7 linked regions of the Homo sapiens genome follow. The protein of the gene in region 3 purifies or fractionates together with the protein of the main gene of each other region. This does not show direct contact. Each region holds a gene or a part of one and is shown on either strand. Other genes may lie near its edges.

Region 1 (3,500 bases), on a different chromosome or scaffold from region 3:
AAATGGGTACCTTCATGGGTGTCTACCTCCCATGTCTACAAAATATTTTTGGAGTGATCCTTTTTTTACGCCTTACATGGGTGGTGGGCACAGCTGGAGTTCTTCAGGCTTTTGCAATTGTCCTTATCTGCTGCTGCTGTGTAAGTACTGCACTGGCTCCTAGAGATCACCTGAACGTTGCAAGTTCTCAAGAGCAGATGCACATGACCTCTTTGGGAATAAAACAAAGAATACTTAGGGAAGGACTCATGATCTCAACAGAAGAAATTATTCTGATATTAAAATCTAAAGGATTTTCAGTTATTCAGTGCCTGTTAGTCACTGCTTGCTATCTATTATATGATGTACTAGAAATTACAAAGCAAGACTTCAACTGAAAATGGAAGATAAAGTTCCTGTCTTCAGAGAATTCAGAATCCAAACTATTTGAGCTTGATAGCACCAAAGTTGTGACAGAAAATGTGTTAGAAAATGTGATGTATCACTCCAGTATATATTGAGAAACAAGACAGGTTATTGCGGATGTGAGGGGTATTTGGTTTTTTTATTTGGTTTTGAAGTTTCTTCCCTTATCCCTTCCTTAGAAATTTAGATGTTCTTTCCAGGTCTTCTCTCTACTGAGAACATTTTTATCTTCCTTTAATTTAAACTTCTCATTATGTATCCCAGACACACCTATGAATTTTATAGTTTTCTACTGTCCTTTTTTATCACTATGACCTTTATACCCTACCTGTATATTATCCCCAGCTGATGAGCAAAACAGGTTAAGCAGGCACAGTTCATATTTTTAATAACTTAAAATGTTCATGGTACCACCTTTTTTTAGTCTCAGGCTTAAAACCTCAAGGCTGTGTTTGGCTTCTTAATTGCTTTTCACATCTAATCAGCTACCAACGCTAATCTATTCTCTGAAATCTTTTACACTCAGCCCTTTTTATTCACACTACCACCACTATAGTTTTTACCTCTCACTGAACTACTATGGTAGCCTGCTAACCAATCACTCGGCCTCCAGCTACTCCTATCTGCAGCGCATTCTATACTGTGCTACCGGGTAATATTTTTAAAATGCGGTTCCTGTGTGCTCAGAAGCCTTCAGTGATTCCCTTTCTTACTGAACATTGTTCTTGATATTGTATTTAGTCTTTAGTCAGGTTCTAACCTATTTTCTGAGTTATTTCTCTAGTTCTTCCTTTTGAGTATACTATGCTCTATTTCCTGTGTAACTAGGAAATCCAGAGTGAGATTAGCAGTTCTTAATAGCACCTGACCTACTGATGTGGGAGCATTTTGACAGAATCCTCCAGATATTAGTGGTATGACTAGCGCAATGAATTGGACCATATCATCTTATTTCCATACCATTAGGTATGACTGTCCATAAAAGTAGGTAGAGTTAAATGTTTGCCAAGTGCTCTTGGAACACAAATGGAGAAGTAGTATAGAAATGTCATCTTTACACAGTAACAATCCTCTCCTTTCCTTTTCTCTGCAGACAATGTTGACTGCTATCTCCATGAGTGCCATTGCCACTAATGGAGTGGTGCCAGGTTAGTAGGTCAAGGTTGTATTTCAGGATTTATCAGTGTTGACTCTGTGTTTATGCTATAAAGCTAGAGGTGCAAACTTCTGAAGAATAGAATACTATTTGGTCTGTTCTGTGCTACAACAGAGTAATGGTCTATAGGACGTAGACATAATACTACTTGACTTTAAGATGCCGTCTTTAAAATCTCTTTATTTTTTAAACTAGAATGCATTAATTTCAGTCACATTCTTAGCTTTTATTAGTTGGAATATATATTTTTTTATAGACAGAGTCTCACTCTGTCACCCAGGCTGGAGTGCAGTGACACGATCATAGCTCACACAGCCTCCAACTCCTAGGCTCAAGCTGCTTTCCCACTTCAGCCTCCTGAGTAGCTGGAACTAGAGGTGTACACCACTATGCCTGGCTATTTTTTTTTTTTTACAGAGGTGACATTTTACTATGTTACCCAGTTTGGTCTCAAACTCCTGGCCTCAAGCAATCCTCTCGCCTCATCCTCCCAAAGTGCTACCATTAGAGGCGTGAACCTCCACACCCAGCCAGAATATATTTTATTGGGCTGTCTCATGTCATAGTAAATATTCTCTAATTTTTTTCTAAGTAAATGCTGGCAAACTATTGCTTCATATGGCTCATTACATTAGTTGTGCAGTATATCCCACAATAACACTTTCACCTTTTACTTCCCACTAGCACATCTTTTTATCACATTGAGGGTTTGCAGAAGCCTGAAACATTTAACCTTTATGTATATATTTTTTCTTATTTCTGTTTTATTCATATTCCTCTTGCTAATACACACTCTTTCTTCTATTCACCTTCTGTTTTGTCTTTTAGCTGGGGGCTCATACTTTATGATTTCCCGGGCACTGGGCCCAGAGTTTGGTGGGGCTGTTGGCCTCTGCTTTTATCTTGGTACCACATTTGCAGCAGCCATGTACATCCTTGGTGCCATTGAAATCTTTCTGGTAAGTAATGACTTCATTGTGGTCTATAATATAGAAGAAATATTGATTTAGGTTTATTCTTTGCTATGAAAGCTTCTGAGAGATCAGCTGTGGGAATAAATCAGGTGATTGACTGCCAACGTCAGTTGGCCTCTTACATGAATATGAGGTGGAAAGGTTGAAATTCTGTTTGCCTGCCTGTCCCTTCCTTTCTACCTGATTGCCACCACTCTGCCACCTCATCCAAGAGGTTCAAGTCCAATGGGGAAAAAGTAAAATAAAGTTTATCTTTTTTGATATCTTCATCCCTATGAAATAAAATGCTTCTCATATCTCTCTTCACTGAGACATATTGTTTACTATTTAAAGTAGTGATAGTAGAGTCAGGGTTAAAGATCATCATTATAATTACTTTATATAACCCTATGAATAAAATTAATAATTTGTTCCTTTCCTTTCTTTCCATTTGGAAATGTAGTTATTCAGAACAGCATGTAGACCAAAAAAAAAAAAAAAATCCATGACATCCCATTTCTGAAGGCATTTCAGATCCTATTAGAAACTAGGCTAATTCCCCAGTCATTTTCTCTCTCAGCTTTGCTTTCTTTTGTGAAAGTAAATGCAAACGAATACAGCCTTTTTACTTAATTATTTTGAAATAACCTAATTTTCTCCTTTATTTTTACCTAACAGGTCTATATCGTCCCCCGAGCTGCCATCTTTCACAGTGATGACGCACTCAAGGAATCAGCAGCCATGCTAAATAACATGCGTGTCTACGGCACAGCTTTCTTGGTCCTTATGGTATTAGTGGTATTTATCGGCGTACGCTATGTGAACAAGTTTGCCTCACTTTTCCTGGCCTGTGTCATTGTGTCCATCTTGGCCATCTATGCTGGAGCCATCAAGTCTTCTTTTGCTCCTCCACACTTCCCGTACGTGTCTGTCTCTCTGCCTAGCCATCCTTATTGGGTAGTAATTGAAAATATCTGGTGGTGTGA
Region 2 (3,500 bases), on a different chromosome or scaffold from region 3:
TATTTCTGTGTAAATTAGCCATGTTTCTTCACATACATGGCTATCCTGATGTGACCAATATTTTTCCCCAACCTTCACCCTTGAAAAGTTTATTTCATCACCTAGCCAGATGAGAAACATCTTGAACTTTTTTTTATCATCTGATTTCCCCTTCCCTGACCCCAGTCTGTACTCTCCCAAAGTACTTAGCCAAAGGGGTGATGACGCAAGAGAGAGGTATGTGTCACAGGAAAGGTGGGAGTCCAGATTGACTCCAGGGGAGGTGGGAGGTCTATATATACCTTTAGAAAACAAGATAAGAAAAGGCAACAGAAAAACTGTCAAAAAAAAGTTGTTATGGACAGTCTGATACACACAAAGGTAGAAAGAATAGTGTAATAGATGTTTGCACCCCGACCTTGCCTCAGTAATATCAACTTTTCGTCAGTCTTATTGCCCCTACTTACTTTTTGCTTCATTATCTTAAAGCAAATCTCAAAATTTTTAAGACCAAATATTTTAAATACTTTGTCATTGGAAATAATATTTAACATGGAACCAGATATTTAACATGTAAGACATGAAGATTTTCCTTAGTTAGAAACTACCGCTTATAGGCAATGTACTTTTCTTTTCTTTTTTTTTTTTTTTTTTTTTTTTTTTTTTTTTTTTTTTTTTTGAGATGGCGAAATTTCACTCTTGTTGCCCAGGCTGGAGTGCAGTGGCGCGATCTTGGCTCACTGCAACCTCCACCTCCCGGGTTCAAGTGATTCTCCTGCCTCAGCCTTTGTATTTTTAGTAGAGACGGGGTTTCACCATGTTGGTCAGGCTGGTCTTGAACTCTTGACCTCAGGTGACTCGCCCATCTCGGCCTCCCAAAGTGCTGGGATTACAGGCGTGAGCCACTGCACCCGGCCTGGCAATGTACTTTTCATATGGAGATTCTGGAGCCACTAGCCATGTCTGGCTGTTTACATTAAAATTTAAAATGCAGTTTTCTAGTCACACTAGCCACAATTTAAGTGCTCAGTAGAGCTTCATGTGGCTAGTGGCTGCTATATTGGATCATGCAGACTTTCCATTATAGAAAGTTGTATCGGACATCACTGGTCTAGAGTAGCTTATTTTAAAGCTCTGTAGTACATGGAACTTCAGGTATTTGGTTTTTGTGAGAAATAATACTTATTCTCTTCTCCTTTAGCTGCATTGTTGTGGAATTCACAACTACTCAGACTGGGAAAATACAGATTGGTTCAAAGAAACCAAAAACCAGAGTGTCCCTCTTAGCTGCTGCAGAGAGACTGCCAGCAATTGTAATGGCAGCCTGGCCCACCCTTCCGACCTCTATGCTGAGGTGAGTCTCTTGGCCACGACTTGAGTCTAGCTTGATTAACCTGTTTTTCACCATGTCTTATCACCATCTGGGACTTCTTTTCTGCCACCTTGCTTGTCTTTAATGTCATATATTGTTTTACTGTAAATTATTATAAAATGCATGTCTTTGTTTTAATTACATGTCTGTAAATTATACCAATCATGGAATCTTTTTTCCACTCTTTCAGTTTCTGTCATTTTCCTTTCTGTAAGTGGGTAGTGGCCTGTGAATCTGCAGCTTTAACTTTTAAAGAACACTTCTAACGAGGATGACTGTGTTTGTTACAGGGGTGTGAGGCTCTAGTAGTGAAGAAGCTACAAGAAATCATGATGCATGTGATCTGGGCCGCACTGGCATTTGCAGCTATTCAGGTAAGCACAGCTTGCCAAGGAGTTCTATCGGAGTGAGTTGGTTCTCTGTTGTCAGCCCTGAATGGTTTTAATCCCCATCACAGTGAATCTTTGTGTATGTAGGTAATGTGGAAGTGACTGAGGTACTGGCCTCCAGTTTCCCATGTTTTCCATTTCTTGTCTATACACCTAGACCCGGAATGGTCTAAAGAAACCAGAAATCTGGATGGGGAGGGACCACGTGTTGAGGGAACTCCTCGTCTTACTGTCTTTCTTGATTAGTGAGTGACCTGTTCAAAACATAAACGAACTGTTGTCTTAGTGTATTCTTGGAAGATATTTTATTAGAATGTCACAAAATTTTTAAAAATTGTACTTCTTTCTTTCAGTTTGGGAATACAAAGCTTTATTCAGTTTTTTTGTATGCTAGTTCTCCCTCTAGTTCTTGTTTTTCTGTCCTCACAGGTTTTATATATTCATATACGTAAATCAAGAACTGGTACTACAGCACTGGTCTCTTGCACTAAACACAACAACTTTTAAAAATAGAGACAAGGTCTCACTCTGTCACCCAGGCTTGAGTGCAATGACATGATAATAGCTCACTGTAACTTTGAACTCCTGGGCTCAAGCGATCCTCCTGCTTCAGCCTCTCCAGTAGCTGGGACTACAAGCACGGGCCACCACACCAGACTAATTTTTAATTTTTTTTTTTTTTTTCCAGAAATGGGGTCTCATTATGTTGCCCAGGCTGGTCTCAAACTCCTGGCCTCAAGCAATCCTCTGTCTTGGCCTCCTAAAGTGTTGGGATTTACAGGCGTGAGCCACCGCACCCAGCTTATGCTTTCTTTTCTTTTCTTTTCTTTTTTTTTTTTTTACGACAGAGTTTTGCTTTTGTTGCCCAGGCTAGAGTGCAATGGTGTGATCTCAGCTCACTGCAACCTCTGCCTCCCAGGTTCCAGTGATTCTTCTGCCTCAGCTTCCCAAGTAGCTGGGATTACAGGTTCCCGCTACCATGCCCAGCTAATTTTTGTATTTTTAGTAGAGACAGGTTTTTACCATGTTGGCCAGGTTGGTCTTGAACTCCTGACCTCAGGTGATCCACCTGCCTCGGCCTCCCAAAGTACTGGGATTATAGACGTGAGCCATCGCGCCCAGCCTCAGCTTATGCTTTCTTAAGCCTGAAACCTATTTCAAGAGCTAAAAGAGCCAGGTGTGATGGGTTACACCTGTAATCCCAGCACTTTGGGAGACCGAGGAGTAGGATCCCATGATGTTAGGAGTTTGAGACCAGCCTGGGCAATAAGACTCCATTTCTACCAAAAAAAAAATTTTTTTTAAAAAAGAAAAATGTAGATAACTTTTATTTGTTAAATAAAACCAATGTAATTGCTAGTTTAAATGTAAGTTGCTTGGATTGCTTGCTCTTTGTATATTTGAACAGAAGCTAGTGTATTTAATGGGAAAGGCCTTTTAAAATGGCAAAAGGATGATTGTTTACTTTGCTGATATTCAGACAGCCCTGAAATGATTCATTAAAAAGCCTACCTCTTTATTTGCCATGGTCTTTGCCCTTCTAAGCATTTACTCTGTAGCTCTGCATAGCAGTAATCTGATGATCAGCAGGGATTTATTTCATATTTTGATTATTTATGCAAACACATTCATTTAGCTAAAAATAATGAAATATGAGGAAGGTCTCTTTTCCCAAATAGAATTCTGAACTGTGCATTCTTAATGATTTTATGTTCAGTAATAAAGCCACATGTACTAGCATGCAGCAAAAAAGTTTTGGA
Region 3 (3,500 bases):
GCTACAGATACTGCCTCATTCCATTCTTACAGCTCTAGGAGATTCATATGATTATTAGCTCCATTTTGTAGATGAGGAAACTGAAGCACAGAGTAGCTAAGTCACTTGCCCGAGGTCACACAGCTGTCCACAAATCAAAGAATGTTGCTCCCTGGCTCCATGGCTGCAAAGCCCTACATCAGTCATTTTCAACTCTGATTGCAGAGTGTAATCACTTCAGGCATATTTTAAAAATACAAATGCCCAGGCTGACCGCCTCATTGGCCTGGGCTGGGGTCCCAGCACCTATATGTTCTTTGTAAGCTCTCTGGGTGATTTGAATGTGTAGTCAGGGCGGAGCACGCCTGCTGCTGTTCCTGGAGAGGCCACACCCACACCTCTGCATGTTGGCCCTAGCTGCCCCTCCCAGGCTCGCTCTATCTCATCGCTCTGTTTTGCTTTCTGCGTGGCACTGTTGTTATCTGCAACAATCTGTTCATGCTTTAGTTTCCTTGTTCCTTCCCCCAGCTAAATTGTAAACTCTCTGGAGGAAGGACCCTACGTGTCTGCTTCATGACTGCGCTCCCAGCATGTGGAGTGCTTCCTGCACAAAGCGGGCGACAGTGAAATCGTTGAATGAGTCAGTGAAGAAATGAATAACACCTCCTTCTTGGGTCTGATTTGACACTTACTGACTGTGTGACCGCAAGCAAGTAACCTGCACTTGTGAGTTTCTTTCCTCATCTAAAAAAGCAGATCCCAACGCTTCCTTCATGCAGGACAGTAATAATTATTAATAATAATGACAATAATTTTTTGGCCACCTTTTCTTCTGGGCCCTCATCCCAGAGGCATCAGCTCCCATCCTGTTCAAGGTACCCCAGACCTCCTTTACCCCCTCCCCGTGTACCCATAGGAGCCTCCTCAAGCTCCAGGCTGCGGCGCCTTACCGAGAAGCTCTGGCCTCGGACGAAGGGCATTTTTCGGGGCAGACTTCGCTCCTCAGACCCCCAAGAGTTGTTGATCTGGGTGTTACGGACCACAGCATTCTCATCAAAACGGGGGTTCATGTGGAAGGCGATGTGGCTCCCAGAGCACAGGTTGATGTGGAACCTGGGGTGGGCAGCCTACCTGGACCTTTGTCCACTGAGTTCTGAGCCCCATTTCCTCCCCATCATCCCCAGCCTGCCAAAAGCCAGGGGAATGGCTGGAATGACCTTGAAGGGCTCTCTCTTCCCAGAGGTCACTGGAGCCTTTGGCTTACCTCTGAGCACTGGGCAGGACAGTGCCTGACAGGATGATGGACTTGGATGGGTACAGCCCTCCCGGAATGGTGGTGATGAAAGGCATCGGCTGTCAGAAGGACGGGGACAGGTCAGCCAGTGGCAGTCAGGGCAGCCGCCACATGGAAGGGGAAGATTGTACCAGTTCCCATGAATTTAGGCTGTCAGCTGAGAAGAAGCCCACGATATCTTTCCTTGGTTCCATAAAAGCCAAAGGAAAACTTTCCGGTGCTCCTCAAATTAATGGGCTTAGATTAGTGTCATGAAAGGAAATTTGGCCAAACACAGAAAGAAAGACTCGTGGGGTGAAAAGGGAGGGCCATGCAATGTGCTCACGTTGACACGACAGTTTTAAGGTTGAAAGCTCCTCTCCACAGTCTTCTAATTCACTGGGACGCTTTGAAGCCCTTCAGCTTACCATTTTGAAAGCCCTTCGCTTTTCATTTTTCAAGGCCAGCGGATCCCCCCGTAGCGGCCCTTCATCCCTAGCCTGCCCACCACAAACAGAACCTCTGCCCTCCCTGAGAAACCACTTACATAGGCAGGGTGGGGGTACATCATAGGTGGGATGGCGGGAGTCTGCTGAAAAGAAACCAGGAAATTCAATGGGAGAGCGCATGTGTGCGCGAGCACTCACCCACGCGCACCCACGCATTCTAGAGGGGGCTCCACTGTGAGGCTGACCTCATGAGCCTTTGGCCCTTGGACTCTCCCGTAAACCTCCGTTTTCATGTTAGCCTTCCTGGAACTTCCTGCCGTGTTCCCAGACCCCACCATGGTCACCTGCCCCTCAGCCCCTCCGCAGGCAGCCCCACTAATGCTAAGTTCCCGGCCTGATTTGCACCAGCAGGAGAAGAGCTTAAGCCTGTGATCTGTAGTGACATCCCGGGGACCCAGGAGGCAGGGCCAGGAACCTCACATCCGGGTGCTGGGGCCACTGCACTCCCCACTTGGTGACAGAAGGACCAGTTTCCCTCCCAGTCTCTAGGGAACCTGCCTCTTCCACCACTGGATAAATCCAGAATCTCTGCTGTCCCAAGGATAGTTTTAACCACATGTCACCTGAGCCAAGGACTCAGCCCCAGATGTCCCCACCCTCCTTGCTAAACCGCTTTCTTCCCAACTCTAGGGCTCTAGGGAGTTTAGTTCTTGGGGAAGGAGGGCACTGTGCAGCTGTGAACTGATCAGAACTTGAAGACTTACAGAGAACATCTGTCCAGAGGCACTCTGCACCGTGTGGATGACTGTCTGGGTCTGGAAGAAAGAAACCAGGTCTCACCCAGGCTCTCCTGAGTAAAGACCACCCCAGCTCCCACCAGAGGGTGCCACACGGCAGGCACCCTCCAGGGGCATAACCAGCCCAGTGGCCCCACAGACCCCACGGAGGGTGGGTCCAGGGGACGAGGGAGAGGCAAAGGTTAGGACCCTGGAGAAGACAGATGGGGACGCTGGTGGCTCTGGCCCATCTTTCCTCTCGGGGAAACGTCTCTCAGCCTAGCCTCCCTTTGCAGGTGAGAGAAGTGAACGTGGGGCATGGTCTTCCGTGGCTGCCCATGGAGTGGCAACTCAGGTTGTTCCATCACGGCCAGCCAACCACATTCACCCACCAACCTCGCCAGGCCGGGTAGATGGTCAAGGGCCTGGCCTCTGCCCTCCCCACTCCCGATGGGAGAGGCCCAATGCCTGGCCCTGCATCCTCCATTAGCCCAGAAGAAGAGCCAAAATCAAGAGGATCCAAAAAGAAAGCAAGAGACTTACAATGGGAGCTGGGTTGGCAGGCCGCACGCTGGGAGGCTGGAGGGGTGAGGAGAGTCAGAACGGTGGTTATTGCGGGCACCACAGAACGGGGAGAGACGATGGCAGAACTCCAGGGAGGCTCTTGTGCTCAGAAATGCCTCCCCAGACACACCCACCTCCCTCTTGCTCCCAAGCAAGCCTTCCTGAGCCCGTGGCACCCAGATTTTTACCCTCAGGTGCACAAGGCTTTGGGGTTGAGGGGTAGGGTATCCCCACTGGTTCCTCTCGAGAGAGAGGAGGCTGGGTTTGATAGAGACCTCATTGCTGTCTGTAGCTCCCACAGCCAAGAGCATTACTTCCGGTGCCATATTTCACCCGTAAGCTGAGAAGTGGTATTTGTTGAAGGCCTATTGTGGGCCGAGTCCTGGGCTTCAGTGCTTTCCAAAGAGGGAAGCAGCCTCAGCTCCTGTGTCCCTGGTGAGGCAATGAGGCTCAGAAAGA
Region 4 (3,500 bases), on a different chromosome or scaffold from region 3:
CTCTGTCTCCCTCTTCTTCCCTCCCTCCCTCTCTCTCTCTCTGTCTGTCTGTCTGTCTCTCTCTCTGTCTCTCTCTCTGTAGTGTGTTCCTTCCTGCCCCTGCTTATCTTGCCTGTTTGGCTCAGGGGAAGTGGCTGAGGTCTCTGCCCTGCGTCCTGATGGATTTGTGAGAAGCCTGTCTGCTGCTCTCCCAGGCAGCCCTGTGTCAGGAGAAGCTGTTGTAGGGTTGCTGGGAACACCTGGCAGGCTGTTAGGAGACACCTAGGAGTGGCCTCAGTGTGAGCTCAGAGGCCGGGGACCTCGGCCCTCTGTGTCCTCCTCAAACAGTGGGCCTTGTTCCGGCGGTGGGTGGGGCCCTTGGTTGTTCCCCAGGGGGTGGGGCCAGGCCCCGTGCTCTTCGAGTCGCACACACACGCCCCCGGCTGTCTCCACTCGGCCTTCTTGTCGGGACGCCCCTGACAGGCGCTGGCTGCTTGTGCAGCCTGCAGCTGCCCTTCTGGTCCCTTCTGGTCCCTCCCACGTCTGCTCCCGGACTTCATCTCAGCACATCCGAAAGCCCTGGAGCCCAGGGTCAGCTGCAGGGCCTGGCCACAGCGCTGGCTTCTCGTGTTTCCCTTGCCTCCACTGAAGGTGGGCCCGTCTTGCTATGGAGGGGGTGATCTGCCGGGGGTCCTCTCCCTGTACCTCCGCTCCAGCCTCCCCCGTCCGTCTGAGTGCGCTCCGCGCCGTGGGTGGAGGGCGTGGGGGCAGAGCCTCTGCGTGGCTCCTGGTGTCTCCGCGCCGTGGGTGGAGGGCGTGGGGGCAGAGCCTCTGCGTGGCTCCTGGTGTCTCCGCGCCGCGGGTGGAGGGCGTGGGGGTAGAGCCTCTGCGTGGCTCCGGGTGTCTCTGAGCCGCGGGTGGAGGGCGTGGGGGCAGAGCCTCTGCGTGGCTCCGGGTGTCTCCGCGGCACTGGATTGTGGGCTCTGCTGCCTCCCAGGCCACCCCGAGCAATGGGTGCTTCAGGCTGCGCCTTGGATGGGACCGAGCCAGGCGTGAAGTGGCCCCCACCGACCCGGCTTCCCAGAGCTTTGTAGGAGCCGATTGTGTGGAAACATCCCCGGCCGTGGCTCCCTAGAGCAAGGTGGTGCCACAGCGGGAGGGGTCGCAGCGTCTGCTGGCCTGGCTGGCTGGGCTGAGTCGTTCTAGGATCTCATTCCCAAAGTCCTTAGGTCCTGGGGGCCTGTGAGCCATTGCTCAGCACCGTCTCTGGGCTGACCCTTGGCCATGGGATTAACACAGGCTCCAGAGAAGCCCTGGGTGTGGGGGGCGTGGGGGTCAGTGACGGGGTCGGTTCTCGTCCTCGGATCCAGGGGAGCAGTAGACGTGGGTGCTCATCCGCGTGCCTGGGCCCGCATCCCCTCAGCCGCAGTATTGCAGCGTGGGCTGGCGGAGCTTGGACTGCAGCCTCGGCTGCAGCTCACGCTCGGGGTCTCCCCAGAGACCGCCTTTCCAGCTTTCTGGGCAGGGGCTGCCATCACATGGCACTGACTCCTCAGATGGGTCTTTGCAGCATTTTCCATGTTCACAGGTATCATGGCGGGTTCAAACCGGTCCGGGGACCTCAAGGATGCACAGAAGTCCATCCCCACGGGGACCATCCTGGCCATAGTGACGACGTCTTTCATCTGTATCCTTGGAGGGGTGCAGGCGAGGGTTCCAGCCTCTGCCTGGGGGGAGGCCCCCATGCCCTCCCCGGCTCAGCATCATACCCTCGGCCACCAGCATGTGACTTCCCAGGTTAGGCTGTGCTCTCACCACGTCATCCTCCCTGGGAGACGGGGCAAGGGCTGCTGTCAGGACCCTGGCTTCTTCACCACTGTGTGATGCGATCGTAGAGAAAACAGAAGCAGTCACCCTGCCGCGTGTGGACAGTGATGCGCAGCGGTGTGTGGGGTGTGCCGCCGGCAGGCTGGGCCCGCGGGGCCTCTGGCTTCTCAATCCCAAGGCTGCCTCTTTCCAGCCGAGCATTGTCCCCTCAGCATGGTCCCCTGCCAATCCCTGGCGGTCAAGCACCAGGCCAGGTGTGTGTCCACCACCCCAGGGCCCCGTTCTGTGGCGCTGGACAGAGCCCCAGGAGGGTGCGCTGAGGACACGGGGGACAGGACGTGCCCGGGATGGGATGGGATGCAGAACGGTCCCCGCCCACCTGGATCCTGCGGCCCGCTGGCCAGTGCATCTCCCCACCCACCCCACCCCACCCCACCCCACCCCCCGTACCTGAGGACCCTGCACCCACGGACCTGCCTTTCCTTGACGAGGGCTGTGGATCTCTCCTGCATTGTGCTGTTTGGGGCCTGCATTGAAGGCGTGGTCTTACGAGATAAGTACGTTTCCACCTGCAGTTTTCGTGCAAAGCCTGTAGTCTTCAAGGGTTTTCCTGAGGATGAATTCGGCTTTGAAATTACATCGCCCTAGGACTTCATGTCCGCGTGCAGAGCTGAAGGCGTCCTGGTCCCAGGGTTGGGATCCCTTGGTCTGATGTGTCGTCTCTTCCGCTGGAGCCTAGGGCCTGGGGAACCGTTCAGAGCCAACTCCAAGCCCTGATGCGGCTGGGGGCGCAGGCCCTTCCTGGGGAGGCCACAGGGGTGTGGACGGGTGAGGCTTGGCCCTGGGAGATCCCTCAGCCCTGCTGGCAAGTGGAGAAGTAGTGGGGTCCCAGGCAGGTCATCACTGACCCTGCATCCTCATGGGGTGTGCGTGTCTGGCAGCCCCAAGGCCCCGGGGGTCCTGGGTGGTCCCTGACTGAAGCTGATGCCAGGCTGGGTCTTCCCTGCTCCCAAGAGCGACCCTGAGGTGAGCAGGACCCCCTCCCCCGCTGAAGACCCTCCAGAGCATTCTGGCCATGCTGGGCAGAGCCTGGTGGAGGTTTCAGCCAACGGGGACTGGAGGCCGGGCCTCAGCTTTCCAAGGAGTCGCCCCCACTGCACTGGGCCCCTCGCTCTGGGTGGGAGAAGACATTTTGTCTGACTCAGGCTCACTTCTGAAAGCCGCCCGCCCGCCTGCCCGCCTGCCTGCAGGTTCGGGGAGGCCCTGCAGGGGAACCTGGTCATCGGCATGCTGGCCTGGCCCTCCCCCTGGGTCATCGTCATCGGCTCCTTCTTCTCCACCTGCGGTGCCGGCCTGCAGAGCCTCACGGGGGCACCGCGCCTACTGCAGGCCATTGCCCGTGACGGCATCGTCCCCTTCCTGCAGGTGAGTCCCGCACCCTCGTCGGGGGGACCCTGGAAGGTCAGGGTCGGGGGCTCTCCTCCCCTGCGGGATCCTCACAGTGCCGTGTGTGGGACGCATGCCCGCGGCTTGGACCCCATGGTGGTCATTCTGCCCCTGGCCACTGCACAGAGCATGGGAGTGGTGGGAGGTGGGTGGTGGGCAGAGGCAATTCTAGCCCTCCTGCCTGCAGGTCCCTCCGAGCTCGGCCCCGGGTGTGTCAGGAGCGGCTGTGAGGGCCCACAGCCACGTGT
Region 5 (3,500 bases), on a different chromosome or scaffold from region 3:
TTATTTTTTTTAGAATCTTTCTCTTTCCCTTTATATCTGGTCCAATTCTTTCCCCATTTTCTTGTATGTAAGTATCCAGATCAACCTTGGGGATATCATTTATGACTAGCCAGCTTTTCTGAACCCAAATTGAGACAAGTTCAAGAGTTATTACACAGACCATGGGACAGAATATTTACAATTGGAACAGTCTTAGAAAATCCGAGCTGTGTAGTCACACTGGCTATGATCCAGTTCTTTTACCATAGCTCATATGTTTCATTGAGATGAATCCACCTTCTCACTAATTTATTCTCTAACTACTAAAGCAAGTACATTGTCAAACACAAGAATTTTAAGATACCTGGGAGGGATGCATTGCTAATAGATATGATAATCAAATGTCATTTAATATTTTAATATAATACAGTAAAGTGTCATTTAATATATTCCTTCTTGAGTCAGGAAGCCCTGGAGAAGAGGAGAAAACCCAGGCAGAAGCTTGCTTTTGCACTGAGAAGATACAAATATATATAAAATGCTTTTGAAAATGCAGCCTTCTTAAAGAGAAGGGAGGTAGACATTAGATCATCTCCAGCCCACAGCTTGTTTCATTTCTGCCCTTTCAGCTGTGCTTCCATGATTTCATTCCTTATCCCCTCACCCTAAAGCAGGTTTTTAGTTCCAGCGAATTTGCACCCTGCTTGGCTGTGAAGCCAGCTTTCCCTCTAGGCCCCCAGCTGGTAGGAAATAGCCCTTGGAAGCTGTGGCAGGATGGGAACCCAACTGTGTAAAGGTGCGACACACCTCATCCAGCTCCAAGTGCCAGGCAGCAGGAAGTGCAGGAGGCACTGAGCTCTGGCAGCAGACATTGAAAATGCTGGCAAAATCAGGACAAGGAAGTCTTAGTCTAGCAAAGAAGAGCATTTGATGTCTTTCTAGCAGAAGTGAAGAGTCCTTGGAGGTGGGCAGCTATTTTCTTAACATTTAATTATCCTAACAGCTTTGTTTTCTGAAGCCTGTTTGAGAAGGAAAAGAGAAGATTCCTCCCTATAGACTCTAGGACCTAGAAGGGACTCAGGTGTCACCTAGTGCATTATCTTTGCTTTAGAGAAGGCAAAGCTGAGACTCAGAGACATTAAGTGATTTCCCTGAGGTCACACAGCTTTTAAGTGCCTAGTTGAGATTTGAATCCAGGTCTGTGTGACTCCTAAGTCATCACTCTTGACGACGATAAATATCCTGCTCTCAGCGGGCCTCTGCAGAGGCAGCAGCAGCTTTACTGGGTGTTAGCATAAATCTCCTACATTTGGCATTTGCCACAACTGGAAGCCTCCTTCCAACCAGCAGGAAATCTTATCCTTGAATCACAGGCCCCCAGCAGTGCTCATGTCATATCATAATCACAGCTCAGTTCCTAGATGGTTGCCCTTGATACTTTCTCTTTTTTTTCCTCTTCAGCTTCTATTCCTCTTTTTAGTCTCTTTCTCTCAGCAATTTTTTCCTCTTTTCCTCTTTGCTCTTTCCTTCTTGTTCTCGCTTCTATTCCGTAAGATTAGGGGCTTAATAATAACAGAAATTTATCAAGTGCTTACTATGTTCCAGGCTCTGGGATCAGCATTTTATTTTATTTTATTTTATTTTATTTTATTTTATTTTATTTTAAGACGGAATCTCACTCTCTCCGTCACCCAGGGTAGAGTGCAGTGGTGCGATCTCAGCTCACTGCACCCTCTGCCTCCCAGGTTCAAGCGATTCTCCTTCCTCAGCCTCCCTAGTAGCTGGGATTATAGGCATGTGCCACCACGCCCAGCTAATTTTTGTATTTTTAGTAGAGATGGGGTTTCACCATGTTGTCCAGGCTGCTCTTGAACTTCTGATCTCAAGCGATCCACCTGCCTCAGCCTCCCAAAGTGTCAGGATGACAGGCATGAGCCGTCGCACCTGGCCATGGGTTGAACACTTTTTATCCATCATCTGATTTGTGCCCCACAACAACCCCACAAGATAGGTATTCTTATTATCACCCTTGCTTTGCAAAGAAGAAACTGAAGCCAAGGGAGGTTAGAGTGCACAACTAGGAAGTGTTGGGGACCCCATCCTGACTGACATCACATCAGCTGCGCTTTTTCCATTACTCCATATTCAGCCCAACGAGAGAGTGGAGTGACTAAAATGTACCACTGGAAGGTGCTCAACATAGATTTGGCTGAGGCTGGGCCCTCTGGAAAGTTCTTGGGTGCTATATGATACTATAGCTGTCAGTCATCATGTTCATTTTCATCTGGAGACGGTTAATCATACTCATACTCCAGAGGCTTAAGAGGTTTAAGAGATGGGAGCAAAAAAGTCCAAAGTCCTAATAGGGCTACACAGCTGACTCTCCAGAGGAGACTGGATGAGTGAAATCATAAATATATAGCTTCACACATTTCCACACCACCATTTGTCTGACAGTTTTAAAGTACATGACAAGTTATGGAAAACATCTGACTCAAAGGCAGTGACCTCCTGCAAGGTGCCAGTGAATCTGGTGAACTGCTAAGTCAAGAGACCATTTCTAGGGTTATGGGGGTTATTGGCTGTGAATATATGGAGACACTAAAAGGGCCCCTTCCTTCATCCTTTTAAGTCAAAAATTAAAGACCCCAGCCTATAATTACTTGGGTTGGGTTGAATTAACCAGCAAGGGAGTCAAAGAAATCAGAGCTTCTCTTGGCTGAGGTATTGACCATCTCATCCTGGGTGTCCATGTATGCACCAAGTGGGTAAGGGTGCCTATCCTCACTTAAAACCATCCCTTTGTCCCCCTGTCAAGATAGAACTCTGGGACTGAGGGCAGCTTTGGAAGTCACTTTGCTTATGTTGGATGCCACTTACCCTCCCCCTCCGCACACACACACACACACACACACACACACACACACACACCACGCACACACACACACACATACACACACACATAAATGTCCTCAAAGGTACACTAGAGATTTTGACTGAAACTTCTCTTAGCATTACTGAGAAATTTATTCATTAACATGTCTTAAAGGATTTGGTGCTATGGCAAAGCAATAAATATTTGCAAAGGGAGTGAATTATCAACCTGGTGTTTCTGAATGCAGTTCTCCTGCTGAGACCAAAGGAGAGCCATCAGACTATAATTGTGTTTAATGCTTTCTGTGCACTGGCTAGGGTTTATTTATTTATTTAGGGTTATTACCGATGACTTAAGCCTGATTAAATCACACTGTTTCTGCAGCTCAACCTCTCAATGAACTTCTAGATACCTTGAGGCTAATGTGTTTTACTCAACGAATTCAACCTTTTCCAGTATTCTCTTCCCCAGGCTGAGCCTATCTCTCTTCCTATTTTCTTCAGCTCATAGTCCCAGGTGTCCAGTCCCCTCCTCTTGCCTCTGATCCCTGCATTTCTTTTGCGATATTAGTCATTTCCTCTAGCCCAAGGTAAATGTGAAAATTACACTAGATCCTTCCAATCCATAAATCAGGCTGTATAATGTA
Region 6 (3,500 bases), on a different chromosome or scaffold from region 3:
GTACCCAGCCTTAGAATTATTTTGACACGAGTTCCTGGGTATACCATTGGGCGTTATAATGGCCTAATTTGCAAGAGACCTCCCCCTCCCCCCAAAAAAAAACTTTCTAACTGGATGGGGTCCCTGATTATATCATAGAGATGCTTTATGTATGTATATGGAAATGTGCCCTCTAGTAGCTGGAATTTAGAGCCTTTTAAACAGTGGGTTCCTGCTTACTTTTGAAACACTGTATTTTTATTGTACTTTTATTTATTCATTTAGAGACAGGGTCTCCCTCTGTCAGGCTGGAGTGCAGTGACGCAGTCACAGCTCACTGCAGCCTTGACTTCCCAGGCTCAAGCAATTCTCCAACCTTAGCCTCTTGAGTAGCTGGGACCACAGGCCTTGTGACACCATGCCTGGCCAATTTTTTTTTTTTTTTTTTTTTTGGTAGAGACAAGGTCTCACTGTTGCCCAGACTGGTTTCAAACTCCTGAGCTTAAGTGATTATCCTACCTCGGCTTCCCAAAGTGCTGGGATTACAGGTGTGAGCCACCATGCCTGGCTGTTCAGTACTTTATGTCAGTGTTGCCTCCTAGTTTAGAATGAACTGATCTGGAGAATCAAGGATAGTACATCTCACTATGGATGTCTTTTCCTTGTTTGTTTAAGTTACAGCCAGCAGAAATTATTTCCAAAGGCGTGCTTGTGTGGCAACCTGTTGGCATTAGAGCATTTTTGCAATAGGCCACTTATTTCTAAAGCAGAGCCAACAACCAACCACTGAAGCCACATCCAGGCAGTAGTAGTGGGAAATGTGTGGTTTGAAGCCCCTGTTGTGCTGGTGGAGATCACATATTGTTGCAAGCCCCTGGGAGTTAGGTTGTGTGCTACCCTGCCAAGTGTGCAAAAGAGTGTCCTTGGCTGCTTTTCGCCCCCTCATCAGCGGATTAAATTCAGCATCTCTTCTTGTTCATGTAGAATGCTATAGGAACAGCTTTTGTAGCCAGAATGCAGAAATCAGATTAGTATGCTGCTTTATTTTGTTTCTTCAATTCTGTTCTCTGTGGTCAAGCTTTGCTGAAGGAGGAAAAGTGGTTCCAAAAAAGACTATCAGGAACTATTCAGACTGTTCAGATAATGAGGTTTTGTTTGTGGATGGTTGGTTGGTTGCTTTGAGTTCCTAGTCTGTTTATGGTAGTTTACTGTCTGATCCCCATCACTAATGGTCATGTATGTCATTGAGGGGTAGACAGAGGACATGGTCCATTACCTTTGAGAGATAATGATCCAGCTATTGGCTCCCTTTTCAACTGTCACATTTTTACATAGACTTATCTTCCCACACCCACCTCTCTTTCCTTATTACCTACTTCAGGTTTAATCACCTATAAATCTGATACTAGCCCCAGTCTTCCTTCATAAACATTGATTGAGCAATCCTTCTGTGCTAGTTTCAGGATTAGGTGCTGGGTCAGGTGTTGGGAGACTGAAAATGAGTAAGACATACCTGTGTCTTCCAGGAGAAAAGTTCCTTAGAACCAGACTGTGATATTGTGAAATATATAAGGCATTCTTCCAGTTTCTTGGCATGCAACTCCTAAAACTTTTGGAATTTTCAAAGTGGTAAGTGTCTTTTTGTATGCTAATAAGTTGACAGATGGCTGGCAGCCCCTAGGTAGCTTCCTGATGGGGGCTGGTCACTGGAAAGACCAAGGCAGGATTAAAGGTTTGGACTTCCAGCCCCATCTACCAACCTGAAGAGGGGTAAGAGCCAGGCTGAAGGTTAAGCTGATCACCAGTGGCTAATGATTTAATCAATCATGCCTATGTAATAAAGCCTCCATAAGAACCCAAAAATTCTGTGCGCTGCCCTGGCAAATTAATGGAACCCAAAGAGGGTGTTGCAAGAACCTCAATTTGTAGCCGGTGGGTCAGAAACCCAGGCAAAACAACCTGGGGCCTGTGATTGGTGTCGGAAGTGGGGGGGGGCAGCCTTGTAGGACTGAGCCCTCAATCTGAGCTCTGAGGCTTACTGCAGGTGGATAGTATCCGAATTGAGTTGATTTAGAGGACGCCCAGCTGGCGTTCATTGCTGAACAACTACTTGCTTGTCATGTGGGAAGAACTCTTCCCACATCTGGTGATAAACGTATTCTGTGTTGATTGTATTGAGAGTACAGAAGGAGAACCTGAGTTTGGTTTTCTCTGCATCATCAGACAGAGATTTGCAATAAAAGGTACATATAAAACTGAAGGGAGAGACTGGGAGAGAGCTTCACAGAAGAGATTTTTGGGTCAGATGCTGAAAGACTAGGAAAATGTAGTGCAGAGATGGCCGGAGGAGAGTCTGGAGTTCCAAATAGTTGCCTGCTAGGGAAGGCAGGGAGAGGCTATGCCGTGAAGGATCCTCCATACACTTTAAGGATTTTGGGTTTTACTCTGTATGTGATTTGGAGCTCCTGAAGGATGTTAATGAAAAGAGTGATAGGATTGGATTTGCTTTTGGAAAGATCTCCATGGTAGCACGTTCTAAAATGGGTTGGGAAAGGAGACAGTAGAGCTAAGCCTTTCCAGTAGTTGGGGTCAGAAATGCCTGCAGTGGTCATGGAATAGAGAAGAATGGGTCTGACAGCTTTATGAAAGAGGCGCCATCTGTGGGTTCTCAGCTGCTGATTGTTTCCGGCAAGCAGAGAGGAGCCCAGGATGATGGTGGCAGGAGGAGAGAATTTTCTGTTCCAACTAGTCTTTTAATTTTCCCCTCTGACCATTGGCTCAGACCATTCTCCCTCCCCGACTCCTTTTTTTTTTTTTTTTTTTTGGGAGACGTTGTCTTGCTCTGTTGCCCAGGCTGGAGTGCAGTGGCGTGATCTCAGCTCACGGCAAGCTCCGCCTCTTGGATTCACTCCATTCTCCCACCTCAGCCTCCCAAGTAGCTGGGACTACAGGCCCCCGCCACCACACCCAGCTATTTTTTTTGTATTTTTAATAGAGGCGGGGTTTCACCGTGTTAATCAGGATGGTCTCATCTCCTGACCTCGTGATCCGCCTGTCTCAGCCTCCCAAAGTGCTGGAATTACAGGCATGAGCCACCACGCCCGGCCCCCCCACTCCAGCTCTGTTGCCCAGGCTGGAGTGCAATGGCTCAATATCAGCTCACTGCAACCTCCGCCTCCCGGGTTCAAGTTATTCTCCTGCCTCAGCCTCCTAAGTAGCTGGGATTACAGGTGCCCACCACTGTGCCCGGCTAATTTTTGTATTTTTAATAGAAATGGGGTTTCGCCATGTTGGCTAGGCTGGTTTCGAACTCCTGATCTCAGGTGATCCGCCTGCCTCGGCCTCCCAAAGTGCTGAGCAGGCGTGAGCCACCATGCCTGGCCAGACCATTCCCCTTCATAGTAATTTCAGCCTCACCTCCTCTTTTTCTCAGTGGTTCCCTGTGATATTATGACACATATGTTTTTGTCCATGGTTCCTGGCTTATAACTACCATAACTCTTGCTATAATGTTGGGGTGC
Region 7 (2,706 bases), on a different chromosome or scaffold from region 3:
TAAATTAGGACAGTTTTCTCTCCAAATAAATATAAATGATCTTGAGTATTTTTGTTTAAAGAATGACGTGATTTTTAAGCATGGTATATAGAAGTATGGGATGAATCTTCAATCTTCCCTAAGGTTTCAATAAATAATAATAAATATAGTAATAATAGCCAATCAGAGGGGTTAAAAAGGTATTTGGGGGGGCTTTTTTTCCTAGCTCTATATTCACATATACTCATATAAACCTTACCATGGGGTTACTTTTTGGTTACCATTTCCCCTTCCCCATTTTTGATTAACCTGCCCTAATTCTCACCTTTAATATCTAACAGATACCTTTATAGAATTAACAAAACACATACAGTACTCAACACTAAATGGTCAATGGAAGAAGACAAGCAGTGTTCATTTTGTTTTAAAGTGGAAGAGACTAGAAATAAAAACAGTTGAAGGCAAAGTTTGACATTCTATAAGTTTATAAAAGAGGATATATGGATGAAATTTGGTTAATTTCAGAAGGCACCTCAAGGCTAAAGGCTTTTTGTACTTCTTTCATCAATCAAAAAGTTAACACGCTTTTATTGCTATTCAAGTAGCAAAGGAAAACTACTCTCACAAACTTCAGTTCAACAGAGAAGAATCACCATTAAGATTGAGATATGGAATTGACTAAAACCGAAGTCTCCATACACGTTATCAATGGAGCAACTTTCCTGTGTGCTTTCAAATTAATGAAATCGTGAAAGAAAAGTCACCATTCGCCATTGTGATGTTAATGTGTCATTGAAGATTTCAGTTACTACACTAGGCACTGAAGTACCATTCTGGAGGGCTGTCCACTGTATAGAACATTTATGAATAGAAGGTAAGGACACTCTGATGATTCCCACGAACTAGGAGGATTGGTGGTAGGTCCTTAGATAGAGCTTCTAACCATGCCATGTAGAGAGCACTAGACACAGCACCTTTTCGTGCAACTGGGAGACTCCTGGTATCAAAAAGAGAAAAAGAAAAAAAAAAAACCCTGAGCAATGCATTTACAGAATAAAATGTAGCAAAAATTATAAAGTAGATTACAATAACAGTTACTGTAAATTACTATAATTACAGAATATTTCTGAGTGCAGGAGAATTCTGCAAATAGAATAACAACCACAGTTGTGTTGCTTAGCGATGGAGACGCATTTCTCAGAACTTACTGTCAGGCAATTTTGCCCTCGTGAAAACATCACAGGAGTACTTACACAAACCTAGATGGTATAGCCTACTACACATCTAGGCTATATGACACAGCCTGTTGCTCCTAAGCTACAAACCTGTATAGTACGTTACTGTAGTGAATACTATAGGCAACTGTAACACGATGGTAAGCATTTGCATATCTAAATACAGAAAAGATACAGTAAAAATATATATATATTTTTTTAAGAGAGATGGGGTCTTAATACATTGCCCAGGCTGGACTCAAAACTCCAAAACTCCAGATCTCAAGCAATCCTCCCACCTCAGTCTCCCAAGTAGCTGAGACTACAGGTGCACACCACCATGCCCAGCTTAACATATGGTATTATAATCTTATGGTACCACCATCATATATGCATATATAAAAGACTATAATCTTTCAACAAAAGATTTTTCAAAATTTGTTCATAAGAACAGTAAGTATTTCTATAAACCACAGTACCTCTGATATCTAACACTAAATCCTAGGTTTCCCCTTCTTTAATAAGAATAGAATTCTTTTAGGTGAAAGGTATGTTTACTATCAAAATTTAGAAAACAGAAGCTATATATGGATAAATGCAATTTTTATCTTCTCTTAGTTTTAATTTCTATTTATGGATGGTGGCAGCAGTGACCAATTGCTGTATAGTTTTTCTCTAAATTTCTATGTTTTGGTGTCTTTTCCATTTACAGGTATTTGATTATCATCAGCAAAACTTGAAACTTTTTGATTTATTGAATGTTGTTAAACTAACAATCTTTTGGTAGTTTTTTTCATTACTTGGCTTTTTTTGTGGGGGAGAGGCCTGAGCTTTCCTATCTAAGGACACATGTTCCAGAACTCAGAAAATGTGGGTTCAAAGAATAGCTAACCTAGTTCAGTAGAGGAAGAGCCAAAGTAGGCATTTAGTATCATATTTAACTCAAGGACAATGTGTCTGTATGTAAAATTTGCGTGTTGGAAACATAAGAATGGGGATCCAGATAGGAATCACTATTCAAGTTTAATCTGCCAAATAACATTTTTTGAATTATTTTCAAGAGGAAGCTGTCCGGGGCCCAAATTTTAACGTAGGACCCTCCTATCCACACGTGCTTAACGGCTATGCTGTAGTGTTTACAAAGATAAGGAATTTTAAAAAGGTGAGAAGAAGGGTAAACAAAAGGTTCCAATATAACCTACTATGATAAAAAGATTACTTGGGATTCATATAAGCATAAGGTTAAAGTTTTTGTCTTTCTCCATATGCTTAAAGCATAGTATATTTTTACAAGTTTGTTTTTTCCTCCTTATAACCACTAAGTCAATATGGGTGTTATATAGATATGTACTTGGAATAGAAATTAATTCAAAGCATATTATCATAAATTAGCAAGAAAATCTTTATAAAGATATTACTTACATGACAATAATATTAGCTGTGCTTGAATGTTCCTTTAATAACTCATTTAACCTGATCTGCCGGTATGTCTGAAATGAAACAGGACAGTCAT

Evidence for each region.
Region 1: the proteins of LGALS9C (region 3) and SLC12A6 purify together in Homo sapiens (affinity purification with mass spectrometry; 3 studies listed by BioGRID and IntAct, with this or other methods). This does not show direct contact.
Region 2: the proteins of LGALS9C (region 3) and TSPAN3 purify together in Homo sapiens (affinity purification with mass spectrometry; 2 studies listed by BioGRID and IntAct, with this or other methods). This does not show direct contact.
Region 4: the proteins of LGALS9C (region 3) and SLC12A7 purify together in Homo sapiens (affinity purification with mass spectrometry; 3 studies listed by BioGRID and IntAct, with this or other methods). This does not show direct contact.
Region 5: the proteins of LGALS9C (region 3) and DCX purify together in Homo sapiens (affinity purification with mass spectrometry; 2 studies listed by BioGRID and IntAct, with this or other methods). This does not show direct contact.
Region 6: the proteins of LGALS9C (region 3) and ANO6 purify together in Homo sapiens (affinity purification with mass spectrometry; 3 studies listed by BioGRID and IntAct, with this or other methods). This does not show direct contact.
Region 7: the proteins of LGALS9C (region 3) and SLC12A2 purify together in Homo sapiens (affinity purification with mass spectrometry; 3 studies listed by BioGRID and IntAct, with this or other methods). This does not show direct contact.

The regions. Positions count from the first base shown.
Region 1 is NC_000015.10:34,254,282-34,257,781, reverse strand, and holds part of SLC12A6 (solute carrier family 12 member 6), read left to right. Parts: coding exon 1-140; intron 141-1,498; coding exon 1,499-1,553; intron 1,554-2,389; coding exon 2,390-2,520; intron 2,521-3,192; coding exon 3,193-3,434; intron 3,435-3,500.
Region 2 is NC_000015.10:77,050,610-77,054,109, reverse strand, and holds part of TSPAN3 (tetraspanin-3), read left to right. Parts: intron 1-1,180; coding exon 1,181-1,333; intron 1,334-1,641; coding exon 1,642-1,725; intron 1,726-3,500. UniProt on the Homo sapiens protein: Regulates the proliferation and migration of oligodendrocytes, a process essential for normal myelination and repair.
Region 3 is NC_000017.11:18,490,289-18,493,788, reverse strand, and holds part of LGALS9C (galectin-9C), read right to left. Parts: intron 3,057-3,500; coding exon 3,021-3,056; intron 2,517-3,020; coding exon 2,466-2,516; intron 1,845-2,465; coding exon 1,800-1,844; intron 1,333-1,799; coding exon 1,244-1,332; intron 1,093-1,243; coding exon 930-1,092; intron 1-929. UniProt on the Homo sapiens protein: Binds galactosides.
Region 4 is NC_000005.10:1,077,564-1,081,063, reverse strand, and holds part of SLC12A7 (solute carrier family 12 member 7), read left to right. Parts: intron 1-1,567; coding exon 1,568-1,666; intron 1,667-2,305; coding exon 2,306-2,363; intron 2,364-3,056; coding exon 3,057-3,231; intron 3,232-3,500. UniProt on the Homo sapiens protein: Mediates electroneutral potassium-chloride cotransport when activated by cell swelling. May mediate K(+) uptake into Deiters' cells in the cochlea and contribute to K(+) recycling in the inner ear.
Region 5 is NC_000023.11:111,402,193-111,405,692, reverse strand, and holds part of DCX (neuronal migration protein doublecortin), read left to right. Parts: intron 1-3,500. UniProt on the Homo sapiens protein: Microtubule-associated protein required for initial steps of neuronal dispersion and cortex lamination during cerebral cortex development. May act by competing with the putative neuronal protein kinase DCLK1 in binding to a target protein.
Region 6 is NC_000012.12:45,219,095-45,222,594, forward strand, and holds part of ANO6 (anoctamin-6), read left to right. Parts: intron 1-3,500. UniProt on the Homo sapiens protein: Small-conductance calcium-activated nonselective cation (SCAN) channel which acts as a regulator of phospholipid scrambling in platelets and osteoblasts.
Region 7 is NC_000005.10:128,184,766-128,187,471, reverse strand, and holds part of SLC12A2 (solute carrier family 12 member 2), read right to left. Parts: exon of another isoform or gene 2,684-2,706; coding exon 2,616-2,683; intron 977-2,615; coding exon 841-976; 3' UTR 1-840. UniProt on the Homo sapiens protein: Cation-chloride cotransporter which mediates the electroneutral transport of chloride, potassium and/or sodium ions across the membrane. Plays a vital role in the regulation of ionic balance and cell volume.